Homo sapiens: one gene and its partner. The protein of the gene in region 2 purifies or fractionates together with the protein of the main gene of each other region. This does not show direct contact. Each region holds a gene or a part of one and is shown on either strand. Other genes may lie near its edges.

The links.
Region 1: the proteins of ALKBH2 (region 2) and ARL3 purify together in Homo sapiens (affinity purification with mass spectrometry; one large-scale study listed by BioGRID and IntAct). This does not show direct contact.

What each region holds. Positions count from the first base shown.
Region 1 is NC_000010.11:102,700,678-102,704,500, forward strand, and holds part of ARL3 (ADP-ribosylation factor-like protein 3), read right to left. Parts: intron 1-3,823. UniProt on the Homo sapiens protein: Small GTP-binding protein which cycles between an inactive GDP-bound and an active GTP-bound form, and the rate of cycling is regulated by guanine nucleotide exchange factors (GEF) and GTPase-activating proteins (GAP).
Region 2 is NC_000012.12:109,087,658-109,090,764, reverse strand, and holds the end of ALKBH2 (DNA oxidative demethylase ALKBH2), read left to right. Parts: intron 1-557; coding exon 558-756; intron 757-2,252; coding exon 2,253-2,559; 3' UTR 2,560-2,576; downstream 2,577-3,107. UniProt on the Homo sapiens protein: Dioxygenase that repairs alkylated nucleic acid bases by direct reversal oxidative dealkylation. Can process both double-stranded (ds) and single-stranded (ss) DNA substrates, with a strong preference for dsDNA.

The DNA of each region.
Region 1 (3,823 bases), on a different chromosome or scaffold from region 2:
CTGGTCTCAAACTCCTGACCTCATGATCCGCCCACCTTGGCCTTCCAAAGCACTGGGATTACAGGCATGCGCCACTGTGCCCAGCCGGAAGTCTTTTTTTTTTTTTTTTTTTTGCAGAGTTGTGCTCTCGGCTCACCGCAACCTCCACCTCCCGGATTCAAGCGATTATCCTGCCTCAGCCTCCCGAGTAGCTGGGATTACAGGCATGCGCCACCATGCCTGGCTAATTTTGTATTTTTAGTAGAGATGGGGTTTCTCCATGTTGGTCAGGCTGGTCTTGAACTCCCGACCTCAGGTGATCCGCCCGCCTCAGCCTCCCAAAGTGCTGGGATTACAGGTGTGAGCCACTGCACCGGGCTGGAAGTCTTCATTTTTAAGACAGTTACTTGAGGTGAAACTTTGAGGAAGGTGAGCAAATCAGGGACAGGCAGAATTGCCAGGTGGGGGTCAGTGTGGAAAGAAACAAATTAACAAGCCCTTTGGGGTTCCCAGAGAATGTATTGCATGAACAAGAATTTTTTTTAAAGTCTTCTTGCAAAAATTACATAGGGAAACCAGGATTTGAAAAACCCAGTCAACAGCTTGCTACCACAGAAGAGACATTTCATCCAGAATAACTGGAGTTAGATAGCTTTGGGGATGCCTCCACAAACATTTGTTTCATGTGGTAGCCTGTCAACACTGCTGCCTGGCACAGAAGGAGAAGGCACAGTGCAATAGGACAGGAATATTGCCACCCAATTTCCACTGCGGATACACAGTCTCTGGAGGATAACTGGGGATCCTGCTGACTCTCACTTCTCTAACACGCCAATGACTGAATACATTAGAAGTTCGAGAATTCTAAAGGGAAATGGCTTAAGCTTATTGAAAAAAGTTTCATTGTGACTCACTGGCAAAACTACTTTAGTGTATTTAAAAATTCCACACTCAACAATGATATTAAATGTCAAACTCAGTAATACTGAATCCTTTCTGGAATAAAGCAGAAAATAAATAACAGTAAATCTTGGAATACAAGTAACAGTGAATCTTGGAATTTGACCATATGTATCAATGGGCTTAAACAGCTATAAGTCATGAGACCCAACAAATCTAGGAATTTATTCTGAGGAAATAATAATGATGAATGGGCAAAAACATTTAGAGATGTATATTACATAAGTATTTACATATATAATAACATAGAAAGATGTTCATGATCTATTATTAAGTGAACAAGAGGAGACAGGTTCAGTGGCTCACACCCATAATCCCAATTTTGGGAGACTGAGGCGGGAGGACTGCTTGAGCCCAGGAGTTCAAGGCCAGCCTGGGCAATGTAGTGAGACCCCATCTCTACCAAAAAAAAAAAAAAAAAAAAATTAGCTGGGTGTGGTGGCACATGCCTGCAGTCCTAACTACTCAGGAGCCTGAGGTGGGAAGATTGCTTGAACCCAGGAATTTGAGGCTGCAGTGAGCTATGGATGGTGCCACTGTACTCCAGCCTGGCCGACAGAGTGAAACCCCGTCTCTAAAAAAAATCTATATCTAGATATAGATGATACAAGCTAGTATATCCTCTATGAGCCATTTTTATTTTTTATTTTAAATATACCCATCATATATATGCATAGAAAAAAACTTGATACATTCCTAAATGTGAACAGTGGTATGTCTGACTGGGCATTATAGGTGACTTTTAGTTTCTCAATTGTATTTATTTATACTTCCTAAATTTACTACAATGAGCATTTATTACTTTTTCTAATATAAAACAAAAAACATAATAAAAGTTTGTTTTTAAAGAATATGAAACCTTGACACAATATAATATCAGAGTTACCTATAACACATCAAACAAAGCCTGAAGGTTAGAATGAGAACTTTGGGTTCCTAACTTTGAGTTTATTTCTGTGTTTGCAGTGTGGAAGTCTTCACGTTAGTGTTCTTGAGAGACACAGTTTATTGCTAATACTAAAAAAACAAAAACAAAAACAAAAAAACCCCACAAGCGCATGCACACAAAAACTAGTGCTTCTTTTTCTGGCAGAAATCTTGACACACTAATATGTGTTTTCAGCCCTTCTAGGCTAGATTACTGTAATTTGCTTGGGCTATACATTAAATTTGTTCAGAAGCTGTAAAAATTGTTCATTTGGTAGCAGTTGAAATGACTTTTCCATAAAGAGTTGTGAATCAGTAAGACTCATGGGCCGTGAAGTATGCATGCACACCAGCACAGCCATTCAAACCTGACACCAGGGTCTTATCACGGTACAGTGATGGAAAATAACTCTGGTTTTGCTAAAACCTCTAACCTTTAATGCTCAAACACTTTAAAGTGACTAAGACCAACAAGCTCTCCCTGTTGGCTTAGCCAAAGGTCAGGCATTCTTAGGATTTCCTACAGGGAATGAGTTCTAAGAAACCCACTACAGTTTTTCCAATCAGGTCTTGTCTTTTTTTTTTTTTTTTTTTTTTGAGACGGAGTCTCACTCTGTCGCCAGGCTGGAGTGCAATGGCACAATCTCAGCTCACTGTAATCTCCGCCTCCCAAGTTCAAGCCATTCTCCTGCCTCAGTCTCCTGAGTAGCTGGGATAACAGGTGCACACCACCACATCCAGCTAATTTTTGTATTTTTAGTAGAGACAGGATTTCACCATGTTGTCCAGGATGGTCTCCATGTCCTGACCTCATGATCCACCCACCTCGGCCTCCCAAAGTGCTGGGATTACAGGCATGAGCCATGGTGCCCAGGACTTGTCTTTTTTTTTTTTTTTTTTTTTTTTTTTTTTTTTTTTGTGATGGAGTCTCGCTCTGTCGCCCAGGCTGGAGTGCAGTGGCATGATCTCGGCTCACTGCAAGCTCCACCTCCTGGGTTCACGCCATTCTCCTGCCTCAGCCTCCCAAGTAGCTGGGACTACAGGTGCCCACTGCCACGCCCAGCCAATTTTTTGTATTTTTAGTAGAGACGGGGTTTCACCATGTTAGCCAGGATGGTCTCGATCTCCTGACCTTGTGATCCGCCCACCTCGGCCTCCCAAAGTGCTGGGATTATGGGCATGAGCCACCACGCCCGGCCCAGGACTCATCTTTAAACCTCCACGCTGTGAGCACTATCATTCCCTTATCCTTTATGCTTTGCTTGCTTGCCCTTTTCAGGAAAGAGGAAGGTTGATGAGACTGGATTTAAAAAGGCAGGTAATTGGCCGGGCAAGGTGGTTCACGCCTGTAATCCTAGCACTTTGGGAGGCCGAGGCAGGTGGACTGCCTGAGCTCAGGAGTTCGAGACCAGCCTGGGCAACAACGGTGAAACCCTGTCTCTACTAAAATACAACAAATTAGCCAGGCGTGGTGGCGTGCACCTGTAGTCCCAGCTACTTGGGAGGCTGAGGCAGGAGAATCACTTGAACCCAGGAGGCGCAGGTTGCAGTGAGCTGAGATTGCACTGCTGCATTCCAGCCTGGGAAACAGAACGAGACTCTGTCTCCAAAAAAAAAAAAAAAAAAAAAAAGGCAGGTAATTTTTTTTTCTTTTAAAAATTGATACATATTTGTATTTATTAAGTCTGAAAAGTACACGGTAAAATATTAACCATGGTTTTTCTCAGAGTTTTCTCCTTTATACTTTCTCTGTGTTTTCTACATGCACTACTTTCATAATCAGAGAAGATAAAGCTATTTTTTAAAAAAGAATAGGCTGGGTGTGGTGGCTCACACCTGTAATCCCAGCACTTTGGGAGGCTGGGGTGGGTGGATCATTGAGGTCTGGAGTTTGAGACCAGCCTGGCCAACATGGCAAAACCCTGGCTCTACAAAAAAATACAAAAATTAGCGGGCC
Region 2 (3,107 bases):
GTTCAAGACCAGTCTAGGCAACATGATAAAACCCTGTGTCTTACAAAAAAATACAAAAAAAGTTAGCCGGGCATGGTGGCATGCCCCTGTGGTCCCAGCTACTCAGGAGGCTGAGGCAGGAGGGCTGCTGGAGCCCTGGAGGTGGAGGTTGCAGTGAGCTTACAAAAAAGTTAGCCAGGCATGGTGGCACGCCCCTGTGGTCCCAGCTATTCAGGAGGCTGATGCGGGAGGATTGCTGGAGCACGGGAGGTGGAGGTTGAAGTGCGCTGAGATTGTGCTACTGTACTCCAGCCTGGGTGACACAGGGAGACCCTGTCTCAAAGAAAACAAAACAAAAAGAAAATTTGGGGCAAGCCAAAATGATGATTGAAGAGGGGTTTAAATTGCATGGAATGACGGGGAAATGTTATTCCTTACTTCCCTTTCAATCTTGAATACCCAGGGAGCATGTATGTGGGGCACTGGATTTCTGGTGATGGCAGTGCGGGTTGGGGGGGGCATCTGGATTTCTAGATGGGGGTCAGGTAGAAAGGAACTGCCATGTTTCCTCTGCACAGGAGCACTGGCCAGAGTCCAGGTATTCGGGAAGTGGCACAGTGTGCCCAGGAAGCAGGCAACGTATGGCGACGCTGGGCTGACCTACACATTTTCAGGCCTCACGCTGTCTCCAAAGCCCTGGATCCCAGTTCTAGAGCGCATCCGGGATCACGTCTCTGGGGTGACTGGACAGACCTTCAACTTTGTGCTCATCAACAGGTGACACCCTGTTTAGTGGACTCAATGTTACAAGTCTTCTGTCTCCTCCAAAAGGAAGTGTTTAGGGTTCCACCCTATTTGGTTCATTGGTACAAATCATTTCTTAGTACACTGGGGCTCTAAGAGTGGAATAGCGCCAGCACTCGGTCTTCCTGGATCCTGGAGCTCATCCCGGAGTAGGAAGTGAGAGGTGATTAACTCCTGAACAAACAGCTGAATGAGATAATTTCTTCTTCTCTTTTTCTTTCTTTTTTTTTTTTGAGACAGGGTTTTTCTATGTTGCCCAGGCTTGGTCTCAAACTGCTAGGCTCAAGCGATCCTCCCACCTCAGCCTCCCAAAGTGCTGGGATTACAGGCGTGAACGACTATGCCTGACCCTAGACGATTTCAGACAGTGATAACCATCTTGCAAAAAATTAAACAGGCCGATTTGACTGAGAATGGCTGAGAGGTTTGCGATTAGGGCAAGGTTTCTCAACGGCAGCACTGCAGACATTTTGGGCCCAGTCATTCGTTGTTGTTGGGGCTGACCTGTGCCTTGCAGGATGTTGAGCAGATCCCTGGCCTCCATCCACTAGATTGCAAGTAGTGTCCCCCACCCCCCAATACCTGTCCCCTGGGGCAGAATCACCCTGGTGGAGAACCCTGGGTGGGTTTAAGGGAAGGTCACTTCAGATGGGGTGGTTAGAGGAGGGCTGAGGCAGTGCGTTTGAGCTGATAACTAAATGGAGAGTGCCAGCCACAGACATCTGGAGGGAGAGCAGAGGGACTCTGGAGTGTCTGTGAAGCAAAAATGCTGCAGGATGGCCGGAAAGCAGTGAATGAGGGAAAGAAGGGGATGGCATGAGCTCAGCAGTGGGCAGGGGCCGGGCTATGCAGAGTATGGCCTTTGAGTGCAGGGCAAAATCATGTGATAAAGGTTTACATAGACTGGCCAGGGGAACTACAGTAAGACGTGATTTTGGCTTTGGGTGTCTTCAGTTTTAAAGCACATGAACTGGCCGGACGTGGTGACTCATGCCTGTAATCCCAACACTTTGGGAGGCCAAGGAGAGTGAATTGCTTGAGCCCGAGTTTGAGACCAGCCTGGGTAACATGGTGAAACTGTTTCTGCAAAAGAAAAGAAATTAGCTAGGTGGGGTGGTGCATACCTATAGTCCCAGCTACTTGGGAGGCTGAAGTGGGAGAATCACTTGAGCCCAGGAGGCCGAGGCTGCAGTGAGCTATGATTGTGCCACTGCACTTCAGCCTGGGTGACAGAGCGAGACCCTCTCAAAAATAATAATAAATAAGTCACATGAACAAATACGTCAACAGACCTCTTCAGCGTTGGCTTATCTTAGAGCCCACTGTGGACCTCAAGCCCTCGCAGAAACAACGGCAGGTACAGCCATGCAGAGTGCTGTTTCACACTGTGAGGAAAACGAGGGCTGGCGGTGCTGGTGAGTTTCAGGAGAGGGTTGTTTTTATGCACTGTGTTTGTTTTCTCATTGCAGGTATAAAGATGGCTGTGACCACATCGGGGAGCACCGAGATGATGAAAGAGAACTGGCCCCTGGGAGCCCCATTGCCTCTGTCTCCTTCGGTGCCTGCAGAGACTTTGTCTTCCGGCATAAGGATTCCCGTGGGAAAAGCCCCTCCAGGAGGGTGGCGGTGGTCAGGCTGCCGCTGGCCCACGGGAGCTTACTAATGATGAACCACCCGACCAACACGCACTGGTACCACAGTCTTCCCGTGAGAAAGAAGGTTCTGGCTCCACGGGTGAATCTGACTTTTCGTAAAATTTTGCTTACTAAAAAATAAAAACATTTTTAACAGTTTTTCTCTTTTCTCTTTCCCTCTCGACTCTAAGAGGGAGCTGGCATTTCCCTTACCAACAGGGAACACAGAAAGGTTTAAAGCGTAGGGCTTGTTATGTAACAATGCAGAATTCAGAAAGATGATGTTTGTAACAGATCAGTGTATTACAAAAGAACACCAGGTGATTTTTTTCTAACAAAATGATTATTTTATTGCTATAATACACAGCAGATACAAAAGTACCTTTAGCAAATACATAAATCAGCAGTTATTATGGCAAAACTACTAGTTTAACTTAGGTTTTTCCCAAAAGAAGCTACTTACTTTGAAAATAAAACTAGAAATCAGATTATTGGGCTGCTACTTAATGCATAATAATTTACAAAATGAAGAAGTCAGGTTAAAAGGCTTTGCACAGCTATTGTTCACATTTACAGCCTTGGCTCAAACCCTGGTCTCTGACCAAAGAAAGATCTGCTTATAACCATATATTCCAAGGCTCAGCCCCTTTTCTCTATCTTTCTTTGATGGTAGATTTCAGAGTAAGCAGT